5 separate regions of the Homo sapiens genome follow, and all the other regions are linked to region 3. The links come from fine-mapping of genetic effects on gene expression. A gene starts in region 3. Each other region holds a variant in brackets. All regions are shown on one strand. Distances are between the middles of the regions.

What was found.
Region 1: its variant is fine-mapped to the expression of RAD9A in cerebral cortex (GTEx, PIP 0.98). The same link has a PIP of 0.9 or more in blood mononuclear cells and esophagus muscle.
Region 2: its variant is fine-mapped to the expression of RAD9A in whole blood (TOPMed, PIP above 0.99).
Region 4: its variant is fine-mapped to the expression of RAD9A in minor salivary gland (GTEx, PIP 0.96).
Region 5: its variant is fine-mapped to the expression of RAD9A in transverse colon (GTEx, PIP 0.98).

The regions. Positions count from the first base shown.
Region 1 is chr11:67,414,625-67,419,723 of GRCh38, reverse strand. It overlaps CARNS1 (carnosine synthase 1), which reads right to left and starts at 4,046. Exons shown (of 10, transcript NM_001166222.2): 1 at 3,961-4,046; 2 at 3,522-3,548; 3 at 2,047-2,317; 4 at 1,204-1,293; 5 at 481-968; 6 at 63-237. The coding sequence starts at 3,524. RefSeq lists an enhancer at 2,473-3,308. The variant C/T (reference allele first, on the strand shown) is at 2,470.
Region 2 is chr11:67,443,722-67,448,820 of GRCh38, reverse strand. It overlaps a transcript of CORO1B not described here. Among named protein-coding and RNA genes, the nearest start is that of CORO1B, 2.8 kb to the right of the region's middle. RefSeq lists enhancers at 2,560-2,639, 4,850-4,949, 4,610-5,099 and a silencer at 5,080-5,099. The variant C/A (reference allele first, on the strand shown) is at 3,012.
Region 3 is chr11:67,389,536-67,394,634 of GRCh38, reverse strand. RAD9A (RAD9 checkpoint clamp component A) reads right to left here and starts at 2,649. Exons shown (of 11, transcript NM_004584.3): 1 at 2,557-2,649; 2 at 2,404-2,474; 3 at 1,853-1,981; 4 at 1,025-1,139; 5 at 845-944. The coding sequence starts at 2,590. LOC100130987 (a long non-coding RNA gene) reads right to left here. Exons shown (of 4, transcript NR_024469.1): 4 at 2,948-3,237. RefSeq lists enhancers at 2,028-2,532, 2,567-3,482 and a silencer at 2,433-2,802.
Region 4 is chr11:67,097,096-67,102,194 of GRCh38, reverse strand. No RefSeq gene overlaps it. Among named protein-coding and RNA genes, the nearest start is that of KDM2A, 20 kb to the left of the region's middle. RefSeq lists enhancers at 1,665-1,784, 1,501-2,001, 2,195-2,304. The variant A/T (reference allele first, on the strand shown) is at 2,511.
Region 5 is chr11:67,513,478-67,518,576 of GRCh38, reverse strand. No RefSeq gene overlaps it. Among named protein-coding and RNA genes, the nearest start is that of CABP2, 7.4 kb to the left of the region's middle. The variant G/A (reference allele first, on the strand shown) is at 2,394.

The DNA of each region.
Region 1 (5,099 bases), 25 kb before region 3:
GCACAGAGTGGCCAGAAGGCCACACCAAACTCCCATCCCTGGTCAGCCCAGGTGGCTCTCACCTGAGCAGGGCAGCTGGGCAGGTGGGTACACAGCCTCCACCAGGACACTCTCCTCCTCCTCCAGCTTCTCCAGCAGCGCCAGCACTGTGTCCACCACTGCACCCAGCTCTGCCCGCGGGTGCAGACGCCATGCCTGCCGCCCCCGCCAGCGCCAGCCACTGAGCTTCACAGCTACCTGCAGCAAGGAGGGGAAAGGGGCCTCCTGGACACCACCCCAGGTACTGCAGGGTGGGGCACTTCCGCCACAGGAGCCGGTGAGTAAACTGAGGCAAAAGGGCAGGGGATTGCCCCAGAGATGGGGCAGGGCAGCGGCAGGGCTAAGAGGTAGGGACACCTTTCCAGCCAGACTTGGTAACCGTGCCTGGGTCCCATCCTGCTGGCATCTGTACAGACCTCAGGGTGGGCGAGAGTCTGTTACCTGCAGGATATCACCCAGGGCCTCGGAGCGCAGAAAAGCCTCCACTTCCTCTTTCACCAGCGTCTCCTGGCCCTCTTTGCCACTCAGCTCCACCAGCCGTAGCCCTAGGCTGGCATCCCCTCCCCGCAGCAGCCCCGGCGGCTTGTAGGTGAAAGCCAGGGTTGCTGGCACAGCCACACCACCCTGCTGGGCCAGCAACTGCCTTGTCAGCAGCCGGTCCTCCAGCAGCCGGGCCAGCTCAGCCGAAGCTCCTGTGGGGCAGGTCAGGTCACGGGCGAGTTCTGCTGCCTCTCGGCCCCGGCCAGGCCCCAGGCCCAGGCCTGCCAAAAAGTAGGTGGCACGGCGCGGGGGGACAAAGTCATCCAGGAATGTCAGGCCCCCAGGGTGGAAGCTCACAGCCTTGGAGACTAGCAGGGCTGCCTCACCCGGCTGCCCGGGTGCTGGCACCTTCATCAGCCAAGCAGGGGACAGGCAAAGGAGCATGTTTCCTGTGGGCAGAGAAGGCAAGTGGCTGGCCAGGGAAGGCTTGATGCCCTATGCCCGGGCCCCCGGGTAGCGGAGTGGAAGCAGCTGATCCCAGAACCCATCCCCATTCAGCATGGCAGCTGCTCCGGTGGAATGCAGGCAGTTGCCAGGGTTGGCGGGTATTTTGGGATGTGGCTGGGCCAGGGCAGGGCTGCCCTTTCTGTAGAAGGGGATGGGGAAACTTGAGCATACACTCACCCGGGCTCTGGACCCCACCCTCCAGCAGCACAGGCAGAAAGGTGCTGGGGGAGCCCAGAACGCACAAGGTCACCTCCGCCCCAGGACAGCCTCGGGAAAGAGAACATGGCCCAGCTCACCAGGGGCGCCCTTGCTGTCTCTCTGCCCACCTTCCACCACCTCCACACCCACGGCCCCACCCTGAGCCCCCAGAGTTTTCCCAGGAATCGGATGAGACAGGGGACAGGCAGGGAATGGAGGTGCCCGCCAGTCCTGCCCCGTGAAGCTGGTTTCCCCTTTCTGCAGCTGTTCCAGAGGTGCTGTGGGCTAGGTGACTGGAGACCTGAGTTCTAGCCCGAGCTCTGACTTTCTGTGTAACCTTGGAGGAGTCAGTGTTCCTCCAAGCCTCAGTTTCCAAGTTTGTACAATGGGACCAAGTCTGTGATTCTCAGGTATTCTGCCTGTGAACCCTCTGTCCACACAAAGTCTGATATATGTAACAGGCGTGGAGGGGCAGAAGGGGAGGAGTCTGGGGGGTCTCAGCTGCTGAGCTGCCTCCACCACAGCTCCCAAGACCTTTCTCTAGAAGCTTCGGTGCCACACAACGTGGTTTCCCAATCCCAGGGCTGGGTCTTTTTGGGGAGGGGGTGAGGGCAGGGAGCCCAATCCTTGACCTCACTGGTGCCAGATGCCCTTGCAAACAATGTCCGCCTACCCTAGGCCAACTGGCTGTGCCTTCCCTGCCTTCAGATGGAACCAGAGCCTAGGGGAAGGGGCCGACCTTGACAGGGATGAGCAAGCAGACTGGGCTGAGGGCCCCTCCCTGCCCCCAGAGGTGCCTCCCTCCAGGGAGCCCTTGGGCACCTGTGCGGGGCACCTGGCCGCGGTCCTGAGTCTCCGGAAGGCCAGCTTGCTGCAGACAGCTCTGCAGGAGGCTGTAGTAGTAGACAGTCCAAGCCCGGGCCTCGGCCCCCTCGGGGGATCCCTTGCAGTCCAGGCCCACGTCCTGGCGCCAGGAGCCAGGGAAGCAGCCTGTGGGCGGCAGGCCAGAGCCCCCTCCCCAGGGGCCCTCTTCCTCCAGGTCCTTGGAGCCCAGTGGGCAATCCCACTCGGGACCCGATGGATCCAGGGAGAGCTGAGAGGGCAGAAGTGGTAGGTCTTGGGCAGGGTGGGCCAGTGGGCACATTAAGTCACCCAAGGGTGTAAGCCCCCCACTCTCCCAGCCTGGGCTATGTTCAGGGCTGACACCGTCCCGGGGACTAGGAGAGGAAAGGCTTGTGTTGGGGG[C/T]GAAGGCTTGTTAATGGGAACGCAACCGTGGGAGTGCTTTGTAAACTGTTCTGTGTGGTGCCCCTGGGGGGAGGGCAGGAAGCAATGTCTTGCCAGCCAGCCCCTCCCGCCCCTGCCATGCTGGGCTCCGCCTTAGCTTGCTTCACAGCAGCAGAGTTTTCTGCTTGTTTTGTTCATGGAGGCAACCCCAGCACCTAAAGCGTGCCTGGCACACAGCCACTTCTCAGTAAGTGTTTGTTGACTGAAGAGTAGATGAATGAACGAACCCAGCCATCACTCTGAGGTGGCTTATTTCTGTCTCATGACCCGGCATGGAGTGTGCTGACACCTAAATGTGATTCCACTGTCATCCCCACGTAGGTCTTGAAGCCCTACTGTGTGCCCAGCCCTGGGCTAAACATTAGGAGGCTAGACAGTATCCCCCCTGCAGATATTTTGAGTCACGGAAATGCTTTCTTTGGATGAAACCTAACGTCCCTCCCCTCTCTGAGGCTGGCGCCCCCCCAATATGGGGCTGCTGGGAGGCTTCGTGTGAATGGAATTCTTGTTCTTTGCAGTCCCCAGGCCTGGACAGGCCTGGCAGCTGAGTCTGTCCTCCAGGGGACAGGCTCGGCCACCTTGAGCAAGTCGTGAGGTCTCTTTGGACCTTGTTGCCTGGTGCCTGCCCTCTCCCATCCCCTGGGGGCTGATGAGGCTGGGACGAAGAGAATCTCTTGGTTGTTGGGAGATGGTGTGCTGTGGCCCAGACGGCAGAGGACTGGGCCTCATGCCTGGGCTCGAATCCCAGTTTGCCAGGGCCAGAGCCTCTGTGCCGTCTCCTAGAAGGTGAGCTCCCTGAGGGGCCATGGAATGAATGAATGTCACAGGGCACTAAGAGTGCCCACCTCCCAGGATGCAGCCGCAGGGTGGGGGTGGGGGAGCTGGTCGTGGGTCTAAGCTGTCTGCAGGGGGCAACTCCCAGGCTTAGGTCCTAGGTGCTGCCTGCTGTCCTCTGGGCCCACTCTCTGCCCAGGGACTTGGGCCTTGTGGGGGAGGGACCACAGAAGACTCACCATCTCGTGGGTGGAGTGGCTGAGAGACTGATGGCAGAGACAGAGGGACAGAGAGACGAAGGAGTCAGGGCAGCCAAGTCCCTGCCTGGCCTTCCAGCCCCTAGACTTTGGGAGTGGAGAGGTGGCCGACACCTGTCCCTGCAGAGAGAGGCCAAGGCAGCCCCACCCCCACCCCGAAGGTAGGGAGGGATTTCTGCTGCCCAGACCGAGTGGCTCCTGCCCCAGTGCGGCTCACAGGTCCTTCCTGCCCTGGGGTCCGGGCTTGGCTCTGCCCCTCCAGCGCGGGGGGGAGTTGGGGGCACCGGGTCCCGGGGGTGGGGGGCGTAGCGTCGAGGGTCCCGCCGCGGGGAGCGGGCGCCCGGGGTCCTCGTCCCCGCGACTCCTGCCCCGGCCGCCCCCCTCCCTGGCTCTCCCCGGGGCGGGGCCGGAGCTGGGGTACCTGGCGGCGGCAGCGGCTCGGCGGGCGTGGCGGGCGGACTCGGACCGGGCGGGATGCAGCGGCGGCGGCGGTGGCAGTGGCACAGCGCCCGGCCCAAGCGGCGCCGCTTTATATAGAAACGCCTGGGGCATGCCCAGTGCCCAGCGGGGGCGGCGCGGGGCGGACGGACCGACAGGGACCGATAGGGACCCGCCGGGGACGCGCCCCCCCCCCCCCCCGCCCGTCAGCCACGAAAACGTCCCAGACCTGGGGGCGTGTGGCGGGACACGGACCCAGCAGGAGGAGGGCACGGAGCAGGCAGGGAGAGACGGGGGTCTTCAGAGACACAGAGGAAGTCCCGACAGAGGGCCAGGTACAGATGGACAGGGACTGTCGTCGAGGGTCACAGACGTAGGGCTGCCATGAAGAAAGAGGGAGGCCCACCATGGAGAAGAGATGGAAAGGAGGGGCGGGGAGAGCCGGAGCAGGCAGAGACTGGTACTAGGGCCCGCCCTTAGGGGTGGGGTGCCCGGGAGAGCAGCCTGGAGCACACAGCCCTGAGCCCTACCTTTGGATGGAGGCCGGAGGTCCCAGCCCTGCAGCTTTCTGTCCCAGCTGCCAGCGCTTTGCCCTATTGCACGTTCTCCCAGAGAGGCCCTCCTGGGCCAGGGTCTCCACACATCTGTGCAGCCCCCTCCTCACTTCTGGACCCAGTGGACTTGCACACAGGGGCCAGGATGTCTATAAGATCCAGCCTCTCCTGGTGCGGTGGCTGCCTATAATCCCAGCACTTTGGGAGCCTGAGGCAGGAGAATTGCTTGAACCCAGGAGTTTGTGACCAGCCTGGGCAACATAGCAAGACCCTGTCTCTATAAAAAAAAAAAATTTAAACTAGCTGGTTGAGGTGGTGTGGGCCTGTAATCCCAGCTACTTGGGAGGCTGAGGTGGGAAGATCACATGAGCCCCGGGGGTCGAGACTGCAGTGAGTCCTGGTTGTGCCACTGCACTCCAGCCTGGGCAATACAGTGAGAGCCTATCTCTCTCGCTCGCTCCGCTTTTTTTTTTTTTTTTTTTTTTTTTGAGACAGAGTTTCAGTGTGTCGGCCCAGGCTGGAGTGCAGTGGTGTGATCTCAGCTCACTGCAACCTCTACCTCCCAGGT
Region 2 (5,099 bases), 54 kb before region 3:
AAAAAAAAAAAAAAAAAAAAAAAAAAAAGAGTGCACTCTCTGGTGACCATCAGGGGTTGTTTGAATCCTGGCTCCACCACTCACAGGCTGTGTGACCTTCCACAAAGCTCTTAGCCTCTTTGGGACTCAGTTTCCTCGTCTGTAAAATGAGGATCATAATAATGGTACCCATCTTGCAGGAGCGTGAATCCCTATGAAGTGTTCGTGATTGTTAGCCATTAATTTGATGACAGCAGTGGGCACCCCCCGGTCTCACTCAGCCCTGGGACCAATACTGAGCCACAGGCCAGCGCCTGAGTGGCAGATCGCCTGCCCCCCAGGCCTCCCCACCATGGCACTGCCTCCTGTTCCACAAGGGAAGTTCTCACCCTCCCCATCCCACTGCAGTCCACACTCTGAGCGCAGGGCCTGGACTTCGGTCCCCATTAGGGCACTCCGCAGTGCCCTTCTCCCTTTTTCTGGGCAGGGCTCCCAGGGCCTTTTCAGCATGGCAGGCAGATTGGGAAATAAAACCTCAGCATCAGCCACTTGCTTTCAGCTCTGGTCCACACTCCAAACCCTACCTCTTGGGGAGTGGGCCAGTCCCACGTCCAAGGACCCCAAAGGGAATCCCACCCATAATGCGTGATTTCTGTCCAGAAGAAAGAGCAGCAGACCATCACCCTTGGTCAGCCAGAGCAGCGGATGCTCAAGAAAGGAATAAGTGAGGTAGCTGGTACCCCAAAGCCGCCAGCCTGAGGGAGGCGGGGCAGACTCCACCTGTGGGACAGGATGGGGTAGAATGCCTGAAGGGTTTTGCGGAATAAAGAGGAGTTCTCAGGCCAGGCACGGTGGCTCACGCCTGTGATCCCAGCACTTTAGGAAGCCAAGGCAGGCAGATCAACTGAGGTCAGGAGTTCAAGGCCAGCCTGGCCAACATGGTGAAACCTCATCTATACAAATACAAAAAATTTGCCGGGTGTGGTGGCGCATGCCTGTAATCCCAGCTACTCGGGAGGCTGAGGCAGGAGAATTGCTTGAACCCAGGAAGCGCGGGTTGTGTAAACCCCCGAGGGGTTCGCCTTGCCTGCTGCCTAGACAGAGCCAATTCACGCAGAGCCGGCTGTGCAGGAGACTGCAGTTTTATTCTTACTCAAATCAGACTCCCTGAGCATTCTCAGGGAGCTGAGTTTTTAAGGATAACTTGGTGGGTGGTGGGAAGCCAGTGAGCCAGCGGTGCTGATTGGTCAAGGATGAAATCAGAGGGAATCAAAGCTGTCATCTTGCACTGAGTCAGTTCCTGGGTGGGGGCCACAAGATCAGATGAGCCAGTTGATTGATCTGGTGGTGCCAGCTGATCCATCAAGGGCAGGGTCTGCAAATATCTCAAGCGCTGACCTTAGGAGCAGTTTAGGGAGGGTCCGAATCTTATAGCCTCCAGCTGCATAACTCCTAAACCATAATTTCTTTTTTGTTTGTTTGTTTGTTTTGTTTTTTTGAGACAGAGTTTTGCTCTTGTTGCCCCAGGCTGGAATGCAATGGCGTGATCTCAGCTCACCACAACCTCCGCCTCCCGGGTTCAAGCGATTCTCCTACCTCAGCCTCCCGAGTAGCTGGGATTACAGGCATGTGCTACCACACCCAGCTAATTTTGCATTTTTTAGTAGAGACGGTGTTTCACCATGTTGGCCAGGGTGATCTCGAACTCCCGACCTCAGGTGGTCCGCCCGCCTCGGCCTCCCAAAGTGCTGGGATTACAGGCGTGAGCCACCATGCCCGGCCCTAAACCATAATTTCTAATCTTGTGGCTAATGTTAGTCCTACAAAGGCAATCTAGTCCCCAGGCAACAGGGAAGTCTGCTTTGGGAAAGGGCTGTTACCATCTTTGTTTATAAACTAAGTTTCTCCCAAAGTTAGTTCAGCCTATGCCCAGAAATGAACAAGGACGGTTTAGAGATTAGAAGCAAGGGCCAGATGAGGTGGCTCATGCCTGTAATCCCAGCACTTTGGGAGGCCGAGATGGGCTGATCACAAGATCAGGAGATTGAGACCATCCTGGCTAACACAGTGAAACCCTGTCTCTATTAAAAATACAAAAAAAATTAGCCAGGTGAGGTGGTGGGCGCCTGTATTCCCAAATACTCGGGAGGCTGAGGCAGGAGAATGGCGTGAACCCAGCAGGCGGAGCTTGCAGTGAGCCGAGATCGCACCACTGCACTCCAGCCTGGGCGACAGAGCGAGACTCTGTCTCAAAAAAAAAAAAAAAAAAAGAGAGAGATTAGAAGCAAGATGGTTGGTGAAGTTAGATCTCTTTCACTGTCTCAGTCATAGTTTTGCAAAGGTGGTTTCCGTTGCAGTAAGCCGAGATCGCGTCACTGCACTCCAGCCTGTACAACAGAGCAAGACTCTGTCTCCAAAAAAAAAAAAAAAAGAGTTCTCTCAGTGGTCCATGGAGGAGGGTTTTGTGTTAGAGAAAATGGGCATGAAGGTGGGCTCAGCCCCAAGACATTGCCCAGCCACACACCTCCTGCCTACCACATCCCAGGGGACCAGTCTCCTGCTGCCGTCTGGAAGACTCACTCCTTCTCCGGTGAGAGATGCCCTTCCTTCCCTCTCCTTCATAGGTGCCAGACATTGATCCTGAGAATTGTGATTATGAGTATTGTTCAATTCTACATTCAGGGCTGCTGCTCATTCATTCATTCCTCATACATTACTTGATCCCATACTGAGTGTTGGATCTTGTTCAGGGTGCTGGGAATACAGTAGGAAGATAGGCAAAGTCCTTCCCCTCAATTTGCTGACATCCTGGTGGAGGCCGACACAAACCAAATACACCAATAAGCACCTGATGCAACATCAGGCGGCGCTGGAGAACACAGGCCGGGTGGTGGCTCACACCTGTAATCCCAGAGTTTTGGGAGGCTGAGGCAGGAGGATTTTTTGAGGCCAGGAGTTTGGAACCAGCCTGGACAACATAGGAGACCTCCATCTCTACAAAAATAAAAATTAGCTAGGCATGGTGGTACGTG[C/A]CTGTAGTCCCAGCTACTTGGGAGGCTGAGGCGGGAGGACTGAGCCCCAGAGTGTGAGGCGGTAGTGAGCTAGGACCGTGCCACTGCACTCCAGCCTGGGCAACTGAGCAAGACCCTGTCTCCCAAAAAAAGAACAATGCAGTCAGGACAAGTAAGACCAAAGAGTGGCTGGGTGAGGAATGGTCCAGGAGAGCCCTAGGAGGAGGTGATGTCTGACCAGAGACCTGAATCGAGTGGGGAAAGGAGCCTTTTTGGGATCTGAGGAAAGAGCTTCCAGATGGAGAGAACAGGATGTGCCCAGGCCTCGGGGTGGGAAGGAAGGTGGGTGGGATCTAGATGATCCTTCTAGCCCCAGGGTTTATAGAGCACTAGGAAAAGCAAGGGCTTTGGACCCAAGCCGATGGGGATTGCATCCGGCTGGATGACCTCAGGCAGGCACCGCACCTCTCTGTGCCTGTTTCCTCAATGGGGTGTGGCAATGGGAATGAGATGGGAGACAAGCCCGAGGTCACCCTCAGACACACAGTGGGGGCCTCTTTTAGCCAGAGACAAGGCTCCTGTGACCTCTGCTCTTCCCCCGCTTCGTCCTCCATCCATCTCTTTCTGGGAAAGGGAGGGTGCCATCGGTCAGCCAGGGCAGTGGATGCTCAAGGAAAGAATAAGGGAAGTAGCCGGTGCCCCAGAGCCGCTGGCCTAAGGGAACGGGGGTACATTCCACCTGTGGAACGGGATGGGGTGGGTCTGGAGAGGCCAGTCTGGGCTCCTTGTCACAGGCGCTGGCTAGAGAAAGAGAGAGGCCTGTGAATGGATCTCCAGGCCTTCGAGGGAGATGGTGGAGAAAAGAAGGCAAGGTGCAAGGGACTCACTGGCCATGGCCCCCTTTCAAATTGTAATAAGAAAGCTCAGCAGAATGCACAGGTGTTTACCCTGAAAAATGGGACTCCTGGGTCTTCCACTCGCTCCATAAACACTGCTATTTTCTGGATGGGCACGGTGGCTCACAACTGTAATCCCAGCACTCTGGGAGGCTAAGGCAGGAGGATTGCTTGAGCCCGGGAGTTCAAGAGCAGCCTGGCCAACATGGTGAAACCCTATCTCTACTAAAAATACAAAAAAAATAGCAGGGTATGGTAGCAGGCACCTGTAATCCCAGCGAATTGGGAGGCTGAGGCAGGAGAATTGCTTGAACACGGGAGGCAGAAGTTGCAGTGAGCCGAGATCGCGCCATTGCACTATAGGCTGGGAGACAGAGCGAGACTCCATCTCAAAACAAAACAAAAAACACACCAGCCTGGGCGACAGAGCAAGAGACCCCATCTCTACAAAAAGTAAAAGAAAAATTAGCCAGGCGTGGTGGTGTGTGTCTGTAGTCCCAGCTACTTGGGAGGCTGAGGCAGGAGGATCCCTTGAGCCTAGGAGGTCGAGCCTGTAGTGAGCCATGATCATGGCACTACATTCTAGCCCGGTAGTGACAGACCTTGCCTCAAAAAAAAAAAAAAAAACCACCCCAACACCTGCTGTTGTTTTCTTTACATTGTTAACCAAGAGCATGAAATTTAGGCCGGGCATGGTGTCTCACGCCTGTAATCCCAGCACTTTGGGAGGCCGAGGCGGGCGGATCACGAGGTCGGGAAATCGAGACCATCCTGGCTAACATGGTGAAACCCCGTCTCTACTAAACATACAAAAAATTAGCCGGGCGTGGTAGTATAAGCCTGTAGTCCCAGCTACTGGGGTGAATTTCTTGAACCTGGGAGGGCGGAGGTTGCAGTGGGCCGAGATCGCGCCACTGCACTCCAGCCTGGGTGACAAAAACTCCGTCTCAAAAAAAAAAAAAAAAAAAAAAAAAGAGCATTAACTTTGATAACTTAAAAAGAGTCACGTGAACATATCCACTGTCCGTGTAGATTCTACATTTATTTGTTGGGGGCGGTAATGGGGCCCCTTGGAGGTGTGCGTTCCGTCGGGGGCCGGGAAGGCGGGGCCTCACCCAATCCTGGAGACTCCTGCGGATGCCATTATGAGGAGCAAGAACGCGAAGGGGCCTCGGGTCCGCTGTAAGGCTGCACCCGCACCTGCGGCGCCTCT
Region 3 (5,099 bases):
AAAAAAAAAAGACACCACCCTAAATGCAGACCAAGGAATTGGCCCCCGTCTCTCACTACCCAAAAGAGCTCTGAGCAGTGCTGGCTCAAAAGAACCTGGGGAAACAGATGTCAGGACCCAAAGGGATCTTCAGTCACCCTGAGAAATGAGCAGGACCTTGGGCCACTTGAATGCAAGCAGTGACCAGCATGGAGCAGGGGGAGAGCCCACTCCTCTCTGAGCTGGTCCTCGCCAGGGACGTTTGCTTCAACTGGAGTCCCCATTTCCCTGGCCCCAGACAGCCCCCAGTGCTCGGACTGCCCAGAACAGCTCCACCCCATAGCTGATTATTCAGCCTCCCTCCAGCCTCCTGCCCTGGCCTTGGGGACTCCTCGATCCTGGGCAGTCAGGAAAAGAGGCTGCCGTTGAATGGGGAACACCTCTGGAAGGATGCCCAGGCCGGAGAAGGGGTCTGAGCCTCTGAGCCACAGGTTATGGGCAGACCTTCAAGGTTACTCAAGCCAGACAAGAGATTTGGTGGCAGGCCAGAAATGTGCTCCCTAGAGGAGGAGTTGGAATGGGTTTGAGCAGCCAGAAAGTCAAGTCAGACCTTTGGGATGGAGAATGCAGGCTCCTAACAGTAAGGAGAATGGAGCAAGGAGGCGCCTGCCCCTCCTCCATGCCACCGTCTGCCTTTAAAGAGCCAGGTAAGGACCTGAGCACATAGCGGGCCATGGGATGTCTTTGAGGTTCACAGAAACTCTGTAGGGAAAATGAAAGAGGTACCTTCTAAAATCAACCCCTTGGGGCCCCAAAGAAGGAAGAGAGAGACCCGGGGCTGAGCTGAGGGCAGGGGTGTGCTCACCGTGCTGGGGCGCGGAGCATGTGGGGGCACGAGGCTGGGTCGAAGACGGCCTGCAGGGACTCACAGTCCTGGAAGGACAGGTTGTGAGTCTTCCGCACCCCTGGATGGGCGATAGGGTCTCAGTGGGCCTCGCCGACCTCCCTGCTGAGGCACCCCTTGGCTGGCCGGCTGCCCACTCACCGAACTTGCAATGCAGCTGGACCACCAGGCGGCTGCTCCGGCCATTCAGGGAGATGCAGCATTTTTCCACCGTCTTCTCCAGCATCGCCAGTGAGCGGAAGACAGACAGGAAAGACTGCATGGGATAAGACACCTCAGCCTAGCATCACATCTCTGCAACAAGCTCTCCTGTCCCATGCAGGCCCACACCCATCATGGGCCCAGCATGTAACTCTGGGAAAAGGGCTCCCACGTCACCTCGGGCACTGGCATCCTTCTAGGCCTCATTCATGCTCTTCCTTATGCTTGGAATGCCTTGAAAGACCTGCTTACCTTTTTTTTTTTTTTTTTTGAGATGGAGTCTCGCTCTGTCACCCAGGCTGGAGTGCAGTGGTGCGATCTCAGCTCACTGCAACCTCCACCTCCCGGATTCAAGCAATTCTCCTGCCTCAGCCTCCCGAGTAGCTGGGATTACAGGCGCGTGCCACCACGCCCAGCTAATTTTTGTATTTTTAGTAGAGACGGGGTTTCGCCATGTTGGCCAGGCTGGTCTCGAACTCCTGACCTCGTGATCCGCCTGCCTCGGCCTCCCAAAGTGCTGGGATTACAGGCGTGAGCCACCGCGCCCGGCCAAAAGACGTGCTTACCTTTCTTGACGAACTTGAGCGTCACCACCCTCTCAGGTCCCCGCTGTGATGCTTTTACCATGGCCCTCCCTGTGTTTTGCATGGATTGGGCTTGCACGTGTCTCTCTCCCCACTTAGCATCTACTGAGTACCCCAGGGCAGAGGCACAGCTGGTGGAGATTCCTGGGGTGGAGTAGTGCCACTGCTGAGGGAAGGGCCTCACCTTCATCAGGATCTTACAGCGCAGCAGGTCCTGACCAGGGGTGGCTGCCTGGTATTGCTGGAAGAAGAGCGGGGCAAAGAGAAAGCAGGCATAGGCAGAGCGGGAGGAGTTCACCGTCCGGAGGGAGAGCTGGGCCACGAAGAGCAGGGAGAGGGACGTGGTCAGGGGGCAGCCACAGACCCAGCCCTCTGGCTGCTTCTGCTCACACACTTGCCCTATCGTCCTCCCGCTCCGCCACCACCTGCTGAAAAACCCTCCTTTCCCCATGGAAGCCTTCAGAGTCGGCCCCGGCGCTGCTGCCGCAGAGGAGGGGTCGCACACCCAGGCCTTCCCCGAGTTTCTCTAAGTGCACGTCACCCCCTGGGAGCTCGCAGGACAGCTTTCCTCAATTCACACACCGGCCTGGGAAGATGACAGCCGCCAGACTAAGAAACTGAAACTTTGCCGACAAATCTGCCAGCGGTCATCCCGCCTAGTGGGGGCGAGACTCTAGTCCGGGTTACCCGCTCCCGGCTGGAGTCCCACCCGCCCCCCACACCCTAGCCCCTCACCCCGTCCTCCAAGGGTTCCAGGTAGAGCTCGTCCCCGATGCGGGACAGGGAGTGGACGGCCTTGCCGAGCACTGCGGGGAGAAGAGCGGAAGGGGGTTAGGCTGGCGGCTCCGCGGCTGCTGCACCGCCGCTGCCAGGCCGACCTGCACTCACCCTTCACGTTGCCGCCCGTGACCAGGCACTTCATGCTGCCCCAGCGCTCCGCCAGCGGCCAACACTGCCCAGCTCTCCGCGACCTCCGGGTCCGGGGTCCCTTCCCGCGCACCGCCCCTGCCGGCCCCGCCCCCGCCTCCCCATTGGTCCACGTGCAGGCGCCTCCGTCACGTGAGAAAAACGCTCACAGGCTCTGCCGTCACGTGACGGCGCACGTTGTCCGGGGTGTCACGTGACCGGGGAGGCCCGCGGCGCCCGCCAGCCAGCTGCTCCTGGCTCCCCCGGCACGCCTCGGCCTTCCGTGCCCCTGGAGATCGGGGCGTTCCGCGGGCCGCGCACCGGATTGCGAAGGTCAGAGAGGACGCAGCTGTGGGGCGCGAGGTCCCTGTGCAGTGGACCGAGTGCTGGACTCGGAGTCGGAGTGTGGGGGCGAGCTCTCTGGGGTCACCCACTTAGTAGAGTTCCCGGGCGTCTGCCGGGGGATACAGGGTGCAAGCAAGACCATCGCACCCACTCTGGGCCTGAGACTCGGACTCCAGCAGCAATCCCCAACTCTAGAAAGAAGTCAAAGCAGCTTGCTTGCAGCAGCCGGGAGTGGGAGGTGGCTGCTCCTTCCGGCTTCGAGGATCCTTTAAGGAAAAACGGCAGTTTCTCCAGGCAGAAAGGGGTAGAACGGTGCCCCTGGCAGAGGGAAGAACAAGAGTAAATGCTCAGCGGTGTGGGCTCCGCCCCCTGGAGAGGGGAGTAGGTCTGTGAGTCTCAGAGAGGCGTAGGGGCCGCCAGATGATGAGGGGCACCGCTGGGACGCTCTGGAAACGTTTTACGAGGGTAGATCGTGGTTATGTGCCTTTTTTTGTTTGTTTGTTTTTTGAGACATATTCTTGCTCTGTCACCCAGGCTGGAGTGCAGTGGCGCGAACACGGCTCACTGCCGCCTGGAACTCCTGGGCTCAAGGGATCCTCCCATCTCAGTCTCCTGAGTATCTGGGACCACAGGCACACCCACCACGCCCGGCCCTTTTTTTTTTTTTTTTTTTTTGGGTAGAGACGGAGTCTTGCCATGTTGCCCAGGCCGGTCTCAACTGTGGGGTTCAAGCTGTCTTTCCGCCTTGGCCTCTCAAAGTGGAGTGAGCTACTGCACCGGCCTGTTTTTTGTTTTTTGTGTGTGTGTGTGGGGTTTTTTTGTTTGTTTGTTTTGAGATAGAGCCTCGCTCTGTCGCCCAGGCTGGAGTACAGTGGCACGATCACGCCTCCCAGGTTCAAGCGATTCTCCTGCTTCAGCCTCCCAAGTAGCTGGGATTACAGGCGCCTGCCACAACGCCTGGCTAATTTTTGTACTTTTAGTAGAGACGGGTTTCACCATGTTGGCCAGGCTGGTCTCGAACTCCTGACCTCAAGTGATCCGCCCGCCTCGGTCTCCCAAAGTGCTGGGATTACAGGCATGGGCCACCGCGCCCAGCCCCGGGTCTGTATTTTTAAAAGACCCCAGACTGGCCGGGTACGGTGGCTTACGCCTGTAATCCTACCACTTTGGGAGGCCGAGGCGGGCGGATCACGAGGTCAAGAGATCCAGACCATTCTGGCCAACATGGTGAAACCCCGTCTCTACTAAAAGTACAAAAAGTAGCCGGGCATGTTGTCACGCGCCTGTAGTCCCAGCTACTCTGGAGGCTGAGGCAGGAGAATTGCTTGAACCCGGAGGCGGAGGTTGCAGTGAGCCGAGATCGCGCCACTGCACTCTAGCCTGGCAACAGAGTGAGACTCCATCTCAAAAAAAAAAACCAGACTGTGTGCCAGGTGGGGATGCATCAGCTGGAAGGTATTCCCCTTCCCCTGGGCTTCCGGGTCCACGTGTGTAAAATGTAAGGGAGTCCTGGAGAAACTCACTGACCCCTACTCTCCCCACAGTACCAAGGCTCTGGTAGTTCTTGGAAGGGCCCAGGGCATCCCTGTATTCCTGCAGGGCCTGCCCGTGCCTTGCCCCTCAGGTCCTGTGGTAGTGCAGAAGATATATTTATCTCTGCCACCCTTGCTCTCCAGACCCACTTTCAAATGAGTTGAATTGATACATAATAATTGTACACATTTGGATACATGCATACACTTTGTTTCTCCCTCTCCTTCCCTTCTGCTCCCCTCGTCACCAGCCCTTGCCCCTTCCGTGGAGCCTTGGGGGAGGAGGTTACTCTTCCCTTCCCCTTCCCGGGGGATCCATGGAAATAGTGCCCCTGTCCCTGGGCATCCGGCTCAGTATGCTGGAGTCATCCTTGACCTCATGCTCGCCCTCACCCCTACACAGTCTTTCAGTTAAGTCCTGACCACTCTGCTTCCCAAACAGGTGGCAACTTAACAGGTGGCAACTTTGCCCTCCTCTTCCATCTCCAAGGCCTAGGCCACCATCCTCTCACCTGGATGACTGTAACAGCTCTCAGTGGTCTCCTGCCTCCACCCTGCCCCCTCCAGGCCACTCTCCATACAGCAGCAAAGTGACCCTCCTAAAATGTCCATTGTGTCATGCCTCTCCCGTGTTTGCACACTCCAGTG
Region 4 (5,099 bases), 290 kb after region 3:
GGCTGCCAGGGCCGTGTGCAGGTTGATCATTTTGAGGATGTGGGTGCAGGAGATTGAGAGAGTTTAGGCTTGAAAACCCCTGGAATAATCTTGGGAGTTGCTATGGTCTGAATGTGTTCCTCACAGTTTATGTGTTGGAAACAATCCTCAGTGCGACAGTTTTGGAGGTGGGGCCTAACGGGAGGTGTTTAAGTCATGAGGGCTCGGGCCCTCAGGAGTGGATTAATGTTGCTATAAAAGAGAGTGGGGGCTGGGTCCAGTGGCTCACGCCTGTAATCCTAGCACTTTGGGAGGCTGAGGTGGGTGGATCACTTGAGGTCAGCAGTTCAAGATCAGCCTGGCCAACATGGAGAAACCCCGTCTCTAATAAAAACTACAAAAATTAGCCGGGCGTGGTGGTGGGTGCCTGTAATCCCAGCTACTTGGGAGGCTGAGGCAGGAGAATCGCTTGAACCCGGGAGGGGGAGGTTGCAGTGAGCTGAGATCACACCATTGCATTCCAACATGGGTGACATAGCGAAATTCCGTCTTAAAAAAAAAAAAGAGAGAGAGCGGGTTCACTGTCTTCTGCTCTTCTGCCATCTGACAATGCAGTCTGAAGGCCCTTACCAGATGCCAGTGCCTTGATCTTGGACTTCTCAGCCTCCAGAACTATGAGAGTTCACTATGTTACCCAGACTAGTCTCAAACTCCTAGGCTCAAGGGATCTTCCCACCTCAGCCTCCTGAGTACTGGGACTACAGGCACGTGCCACTGTTCCTGGCTATAAATTTCTATTCTTTATAAATTATTTAGTCTTGCCGGGCACGGTGGCTCATGCCTGTAATCCCAGCACTTTGGGAGGCCGAGGTGGGTGGATCACAAGGTCAGGAGATCGAGACCATCCTGGCTAACATGGTGAAACCCCGTCTGTACTAAAAATACAAAAAATTAGCCGAGCATGGTGGTGGGCACCTGTAGTCCCAGCTACTCGGGAGACTGAGGCAGGAGAATGGCATGAACCTGGGAGACAGAGCTTGCAGTGAGCCGAGATCGCACCACTGCACTCGAGCCTGGGTGACAGAGCGAGACTCCCTCTCAAAAAAAAAAATAAATAAATAATCTAGTCTCAGCTATTTTGTTATAGCAGCACAAAGGGACTGAGGCAGGGGTGGATAAGGTGACCCCTTTCTCTCTGAGAGAAGCCAGATCTTACTATGACATATATATTTTTTTGAGATAGGGTCTCGCTCTGTTGACCAGGCTGAAATGCAGAGGCGTGATCATGGCTCACTGCAGCCTCAAACTCCCGGGCTGAAGTGATCCTCCCACCTCAGCCTCCCAAAGTGCTGGGATTACAGGCATGACCGGGTGTGGTGGCTCATGCCTGTAATCCCAGCACTTTGGGAGGCTGAGGCAGGTGGGTCACCTGAGGTCAGGAGTTCAAGACCAGCCTGGCCAACATGGCAAAACCTGGTCTGTATCTAAAAATGCAAAAGATTAGCCAGCAGTGGTGGTGCGTGCCTGTAGTCCCAGCTACTTTGGAGGCTGAGGCAGGAGAATAGGTTGAACCAGGGAGGTGGAGGTTGCAGTGGGCTGAGATCACGCCACTGCACTCCAGCCTGGGTGACAGAGTGAGACTCTCTCAAAACAAAACAAAGTGCTGGGATTACAGGCATGAACCAGCATGCCTGGCCTTCTTTTTTTCTTTTTTTCTTTCCTTTTTTAAACTTACTACTTTCTGTCTACAGTCTTCTACCCCACAGAAGTGGAGAGAGAAGTGGGTGGATTCGGGAAGCATCATGAAAGCTCACAGGAAACCAACTTCCTGTGACCACCAGTTATGCCAGAGGGTCAGTGAGAACCAAGGCAGGTCCAGGCACTGCGCACAGGTGCCCTACACAGGAAGGAGAGCGTAGAGTCCTAAACAGGCCACAGTGGCCCAGGCTAACAAACAAGAGTTTCTCCCTCCTGCAGGCTCACCCTCTGCCCCTCTCCCCTACCCCTGCCTTTGGGCTTCCTGCAAGGCCTAGTCCTCAACCCTCTGCTCTTCTCTCTCTTGAGGCTTTCATTTATTCTCAGAACTTCAGATGTCTTCTCTGCGGGTTTGTCCCTGTGGCTGCTACGGCCCTGAACTTTCCCCACCACCTGGCCAGTGACTTCTCTGTTGGAGATTCCCCTGCACCCTCCTGTGTGAAATGAGGTCTATGCTGTCCTCCCCTTCAAACAGGCATTGGATACACTCTCTCCTCCCTGCCGCCTCCTCTGCCTCCAAACACATGCACAGGCCTTCCCTGCTGCACTCTGTGAATTCCCACAGCCCTGAAAATCCATTCACCCAGCTTGGCAATTACTGCATGCTCGCTTGCGTTTGATTTTTTTCTGAGACAGAGTCTCGCTCTGTCGCCCAAGCTAGAGTGCAATGACAGGATCTCAGCTCACTGCAACCTCCACCTCCCGGGTTCAAGCAATTTTCTTGCCTCAGCCTCCTGAGTAGCTGGGATTACAGGCCTGCGCCACCACACCTGGCT[A/T]ATTTTGTATTTTTAGTAGAGACGGGGTTTCACCATGTTGGTCAGGCTGGTCTCAATCTCCTGACCTCAGGTGATCCGCCCACCTTGGCCTCCCAAAGTGCTGGGATTATAGGCGTGAGCCACCACGCCTGGCCTCACTTCTGTGAGTGTGTCTGGTTCTCTCTCCAGTGGAGTAAGCTTCCTACAGAATGGGCTTGCTGTGTGCCTGTTTCCTCCACCATGTCTGGAATCAGGCCCCGAAAATAGTTTTCCTCATTCACTAAATGCTTGCGAAGGGTAACAGGAGAGGGGCCCCTGGTGTAGTGGCCGATGTTGGGGGCGGGGAGACAGGCAAGAGGGTTTGCCAGGAAAGAGGTGGAATTTGTAAAAGTAACTATTGGAGGAGTACATTGCAGGCACATAAAGTATTTGCATCTGAGCAAAGACTCAAATGGGAGTGAAATTATTGGAGGAGGAAGACATTGAGTCACTGCCAGGAAGGCCCAGCTGGTAGGGGTGGAGTTGGAGGAAGAAGAGGTAGAGGATACCCCGGGGAGAAAGAGCTGGTGGCAAGTTTAGAGCCCAGGATGGGACAAGGTTGATCACTGACAGCCACTAAAGATGGGAGAAACAGCTTGGCAGCCAGCACTGGGCACATGGCAGGCAGTTAGTTGCTGGAGGCCAGATACCCAGAGGGAGGAGGTGGTAATGGGCAGTGGTGATAGCGACTAGAGTGAGACAGTGACAGAAGAATGGGAAGAGGCATCCAAGTGGGTCAGAGAAAAGGAGCAGTGTGAAGTGTGGCAGAGGACATGGGGTGTGGAGGGTGGTGGCAAACTTGTAGTCTAAGCTTTGCCTTATGGTTGGGAGAAGAATAATAAAGGCCGAGGTACATTTGCATTTCTTGGTGGTTCCTATCCAACTCCATTCAGTGAGGTTGTTCCTACAGGTACCCAGTCTCCCTTGGAGATGCCCCATGGGTGGTACTGGGGAGAATAGAGACATCTTCCCTCTCCTGACCGGGTGCAGCCGGGTCAAATTCGGTTTGACCCAGCAGACCTCCTTTTTTAGGTTGCTGACTCCCAAGCAGGTGGCCTGAGGAAGTGGAGAAAGATGGACATCATTCCCATCTGGCTTCCTGCCCATCCCAAACCTGGTCCTCCAGCCCCCAATCAATTCTTCTTCTTCCTTTTTTTTTTTTGTTATTGAGATGACGTTTTGCTCTATTTTTTTTTTTTTTTTGAGACGGAGTCTGGCTCTGTTGCCCAGGCTAGAGTGCAGTGGTGCGATCTCAGCTCACTGCAAGCTCCACTCCCGGGTTCAAGCGATTCTCTTGCCTCAGCCTCCCAAGTAGCTGGGACTACAGGCGCCCGCCACCAGGCCCGGCTAATTTTTTGCATTTTTAGTAGAGATGGGGTTTCACCGTGTTAGCCAGGATGGTCTCGATTTCCTGACCTCATGATCCACCCGCCTTGGCCTCCCAAAGTGCTGGGATTACAGACGTGAGCCACTGTGCCCGGCCCCGTTTTGCTCTTGTTGCCCAGGCTGGAGTGCAGTGGCGTGACCTCGGCTCACTTCAACCTCTGCCTCCTGGGTTCAAGTGATTCTCCTGCCTCAGCCTCCCAAGTAGCTGGGATTACAGGCGTCTGCCACCATACCTGGCAAATTTTTTGTATTTTTAGTAGAGACAGGGTTTCACCATGTCAGCCGGGCTGGTCTCAAACTCCTGATCTCAGGTGATCCACCCACTTCGACCTCCCAAAGTGCTGAGATTACAGGCATGAGCCACCACGCCCAGCTGCCCCCAATCAATTCTGAGAGCCACCTTCACCCTGACAGATAAACACATAGACACACACTCCAAAAGGCTGGGATTACAGGCATGAGCCCCTGCGCCCTGCCCAGACCCTGTTCTTAATGTAAGCAAGTGAGTGTGTCTTTGTTTTTTTGTAGGTTTTTTGTTTGTTTTGTTTTTGTTTTTTGGAGACAGTCTCACTCTGTCACCCAGGCTGGAGTGCAGTGGTGTGATCTCTGCTCACTGCAACCTCTGACTCCCAGGTTCAAGCAATTCTCCCTGTCTCAGCCTCCCAAGTAGGTGGGATTACAGGCACCCACCACCATGCCCGCCTAATGTTTGTATTTTCAGTAGACACGAGGTTTCGCCATGTTGGCCAGGCTGGTCTCGAACTCATGACCTCAGGTGATCAATCCTCCTCAGCCTCCCAAAGTGCTGGGATTACAGGTGTGAGCCACTGTGCCTTACTTCGAATTCACCCAGAAGCAAACCTTGAGGCAAGGATTCAAGTGCAAGAAGTTTATTTGGGAAATGGTCCTAGGAAATACTGACAGAGGAGTGGAAAGTAAGACAAGGGAGGGAAGAGAACCAACGAAGGGTGCATCGTCGAGCAAGTCACTGCAGTGGCTGCTGGTGCTGCCTGGCTGGACACCTCTGGGAGACAGTGTAGAAGGGGACTCCACATTTTCCTTATCCACCCGCTGCCACCTGCCATTGGTTGTGGGCTGCTTCCAGAGGCTGTTGGCTCCCTGGCACACTCACTGCCCCATGTGTGTGCAGAGTCAGTGGCCTGAGCAACCCCTGGTCAGAGACAC
Region 5 (5,099 bases), 120 kb before region 3:
CACTTTTCCTGCAGTAGCCTTGGAGGCACACTGCTCAGAGCTCACTTCAAGTACACGCAGTTCAACTTAGAGAAGTGGGTGAGTTAGCAAAAGGGCTCAGCCACTGGCCCCTTCAGGAGACACCTCAGCTTTTGGGCTGACACCTCACTCATCCAGGGAGCCCCCAGCCACTAACTGAGCACAGCATGGGGAACCAGGACCTGGACATTTCTGCCTAATGCAAGGCTCCTCTAATGGGCAGTCTTTGCTCTGAGCTCCCCTTTGGGGCGGCCAAGGCAGACAGATCTGCGTGGAGTCAGAGGCTCGCCTGCCCAGTCCTGCTTCCTCCCCCTTTACCTTCCTCCCTCCCTAACTCCATCTCAGCATCTTCCTCCTGGAGGACCCCAGACACTCAAAGCATATCCCAGTCTTCAGGGCCCCATTTTCCAGATTGAAGAAATTGACAGGCTGAGTGCCCTCATCCTTTCCTGCTGCTATAACAAAATACCTTAGACTGGTATTTTATAAACAGTATGAATTTATTGCTCACAGTTATGGAGGCTGGGAAGTCCAGGGTCAAGGTGCAGGCAGTTGGGTGTCTGGAGAGGGCCAGGTCTCTGCTTCCAAGATGGTGCCTTGAGCTGCTTCCTCCAGAGGGTGCCTCACGTAGCAGAAAGGCAGGAAGCACATGAGGGCCTGGCTACTCCCCCCGCCCCACCGCCACCCCCAGCCCTTTTATAAGGCACTAATCCCATCCATAAGGGCAGAGCCCTCATGGCCCGATCGTCTTCTAAAGGCCCCACCCCTTACCGTTGCTGCACTGGGGATTGAGTTTCAACATGCATTTTGGAGGGGACACGAACATCAGAGCCACAGCACGCGGGCCAGGTGCAGTGGCTCATGCATGCAACCCCAGCACTTTGAGGCCAGGAATTTGAGACCAGCCTGGGCAACATAGCGAGACCCTATCTCTACAAAAATAAAGCAAAAATTAGCCAGGTGTGGTGGTGCATACCTGTAGTCCCAGCTACTTGGGAGGCTGAGGTGGGAGGATCACGGGAACCCAGGAGGTCAAGGCTGCAGTGAACTATATGATTGCACCACTGCACTCTAGCCTGGGCAACAGAACAAAACCCTGTCTCTAAAAAACACTTTTTTAACTAAAAATAATAATAACATAAACAATAGCACCAAGTCAAAGTGACCTGCTAGAGACTACGTGGCCTCACTGCCCTCTATCCCTACACGCGGCTAGGCTATTCTTCCTAAAATGCCACTTGCATTTTGTCACACCCCTGTTCAGGACCTCGCCATGACTTTCCATTACCCCCAGGTTAATCCAGGGCCTTTGCCTGCACAGAGGTTCCAGGAGAACACGGGAGTGGCATAAAGCCACACACAATCAGGATGAAGGGTGGTGGGACTTGCACCCAGGCCCAGGGACTCTGAAACTACAGTGCCAACTAGGGAGGGTGCCTCGGAGTCAGGACCGGCCCAGGCCAGATCTTGGCCTCTTCTAGCTATGCCGCAAGCCTCATCTGCAGCTTCTGCCTGCTGGGAGCGAACGACCCCTGACCTTCCTCATCATGAAGGGGTGAGAGTGCCCAGTGCCTGTGCCTGGTCCTCACATGGCGCCTGCCAACAAGATGGCCCTGGGACAAAGCAGGCAGGCGGCCTGGGGATGTGCGCTGCGCATTCTGGAGACTGGATGCTGAGGTGCTGGAGCTGGCTGCAGTGGCCTCAGCACCACTCTCCTGGCAGATCTCAATTAATCCTTAATCCTCAATTAGGTAATCACCTCTGCCAATCTGGCAGGACTAGGGATGTGGATAAGTTGCCCCAGCCTCAGTGGCTTCTCTGGGAGCCAGGATCCACACTCCCACCCTTCCTTCCACCACCCTCACGGCTGGTACAGATGGTATTGCTGCCTGAGAAGATGCCTGTCCCTGCTGCAGGGGCTGAGGGGTAGTGATGGCCATGAGGAAAAGGGAAATCAGAACCCTACTCAGGGTCAGCCTCCCACCACCTCCCCAGGCCTCAGCCTGGCAGGCTCTGCGGCTAGAGAACTGGGAGTGGCTGTGGGGTGGTCTGAATCAGGGCAGTGTGTCTGCTGGCAAAAGAAGTGCTCCCAGCTCCCCCAAATCTCACACACACTTCCCAACAGATAGCAACTGGAGCAGGGGATCCCTTAAGCCTGTGAGATCGAGGCTGCACTAGGCTGGGGAAGGAACAGTGGGCAGGGTTGAAACTATGGCAAGTCCAGAACCCCTGCCCCCGCTACAGGGGGCACCTGCTGCCCAACTCCTCCGATTCTTGCCAGAGCAGCCCCAAGCTATAAGATCTTCTGATTTAGGCCGGGTGCAGTGGCTCATGGCTGTAATCCCAGCACTTTGGGAGGCCGAGGCGGGTGAATC[G/A]CCTGAAGTCAGGATTTCGAGATCAGCCTGGCCAATATGGTGAAACCCCGACTCCACCAAAAATACAAACATTAGCCAGGCGTGGTGACAGGCTCCTGTAATCTCAGCTACTCGGGAGACTGAGACAGGAGAATTGCTTGAACTCGGGACACAGAGGTTTCAGTGAGCCAAGATTGTGTCAGTGAGCCAAGACTGTGTCACTGAACTCCCGCCTGGGCAACAGAGTGAGACTCCATCTCAAAATAAACAAACAAACAAACAAACAAAAGACCTATAGGTTTACAGAATGACTGTGAAGATAGCACAGAGGGTTTCCCAATACCCCACGCCCAGATTCCCCTATATATCAGTCAGGGTTCTCCAGAGAAACAGAACAATAGGATATCTTGGTAGATGATTGATGATTGATAGATAGATAGATAGATAGGTAGATAGATAGATAGGTAGATCGATCCATAGGGAGTCTTTCAATTGGCTTTGTGTCCCCATCTTTGTGTATGTTTGTTTATTTTTAGCACTTTTTATGCTTTGGCACTACAAGCTGCTCCAGGATCATCTTGTATATTTCCTGCCCCAGTCCTACTATCAGTCATTTCTCCGAGGAGCCCTGGTTCATTTTATTGGAGAATGGTATTAGACACCAAGATCTGGGGCGGGGCATGGTGCCTAATGCCTGTAATTCCTATACTTTGAGACGCCAAGGTGGGAGGATCACTTGAGTCCAGGAGTTCAAGACCAGCCTGGGCAACATAGTGAGACCCCATCTCTACAAAAAAATTTTAAAAATTAGCCAGGTGTAGTAGTGTGCGCCTGTAGTTCCAGCTACTTGGAAGGCTGAAGTGGGAAGATCACTTGTCCCTGGGTGTTCAAGGCTTCAGTGAACTAGGATAGCACCCAGTTCACCACACTGCAGCCTGGGCAACAGAGCAAAGCCCTGTCTCTCTAAAAAAACAAAAAAGTGGGGGCAGGGGCCGGGCACAGTGGCTCACACCTGTAATCCCAGGACTTTGGGAGGCCAAGGCAGGCAAATCATTTGAGGTCAGGAGCTCAAGACCAGCCTGACCAACATGGTGAAATCCCACCTCTACTAAAAATACAAAAAGAATCCCGGCGTGGTGGCGGGTGCCTATAATCCCAGCTATGCAGGAGGCACCATGCCCCACCCCAGAGCAGGAGAATGGCTTGAACCCGGGGGGCAGAGGTTGCAGTAAGCTGAAATCCCACCACTGCATTCCAGCCTGGGTGACAGAGAGAGACTTCATCTCAAAAAAAAAAAAAAGAAAGAAAAAAGAAAAGAAAAGGAAAAGAAACCAAGATCTGGGTGCTTGTTGCTAGTGGGTGTAGCAGGGAGGGGAAATTGTTTCCAGGTCTTCTCTGCTGATAACATGAGGAGATACGTGTGTGTGCATGCTATTCTGTGTATACAGACATTCATAAATATTCCTGTATGTAAGCAACTGAATCTCTATTAAGCTGTACATGAGTTCATCCTGATGCTTCCAACTCCAGCCCATTACCACATGGATCATTCTAGCCACCCCACTTGCTTATCTGTAACTTCTCATTCCAACAGTGACCCCCATCATCCATCCTCTGTTTACTTAATTGTTCAGTTCCAGCTACATGTGGAGTGATTTTGGAACTGTTAACCCATATTCCTGTGGGGTACAACTTTCTCAACGAGTGCGGTGCTTATGTGCAGTTCCTTTTGCCTTTAGTCTTACAGACTCCCTCATTTCTAGGTCAGCACCTTATTCCTTCAGCCCCTACAGTGAGGTTGTTGCACACATTTGTAATATAGCTAGTTTCTTTGGTTGCATTCTGCATTCCATCCTGGGATCCGCTGACCTCCAAGATGAATTTTTTTACATTTGCATACATTAAAGTTTACTCAGCCGGGAACCGTGGCTCACGCCTGTAATCTACTTTGGGAGGCCAAGGAAGGAGGATGGCATGAGCCCAGGAGTTGGATGCAGCAGTAAGCCATGATCACACTACCGCACTCCAGCCTGGGCAAAGAGCAAGACCCTGAATAAAAAATAAAAAATAAAAACACAGAAAGTTGGTCAGGAGTGTTGGCTCACGCCTGTAATCCCAGCACTTCGGAAGACCAAGGTGGGTGAATCACCTGAGGTCAGGAGTTCGAGACCAGCCTGGCCAACATGGTGAAACCCTATCTCTATTAAAAATACAAAAATTAGCTGGGCATGGTGGCGTGCAGTTGTAATTCCAGCTACTGGGGAGGCGGAGGCAGGAGAATCGCTTGAACCCGAGTGGCAGAAGTTGCAGTGAGCTGAGATTGTGCCACTGCACTCCTGCCTGGGTGACAGAGTGAGACTCCGTCTCAAAAAAAAACAAAAACAAAAACAAAAAGTTTCCTCATACAGAAGAGTTTCACTCCCCTATGCCTCACCTATTCAGTTTCACTCCCTCTACCCCAGGCCCCAGCAATCACAGATCAATTTCTGTATAGTTTTCCCTTTTCCAGAATGTCACAGAATTGGAATCATACAGTATGTGGCTTTTTCAGACTGGCTTCTTTCACTTAGCAAAATGCATTTAAGATTTATTGATGTCTTTTCATGGCTAGATAGGCGATTTCCTTCATTGCCCAATAATATTCCATTGTATGGATATGTCAGTTTGTTTAACCATTCACCTATTTTTTTTTTTTTGAGATGGCGTCTCACTTTGTCACCCGGGCTG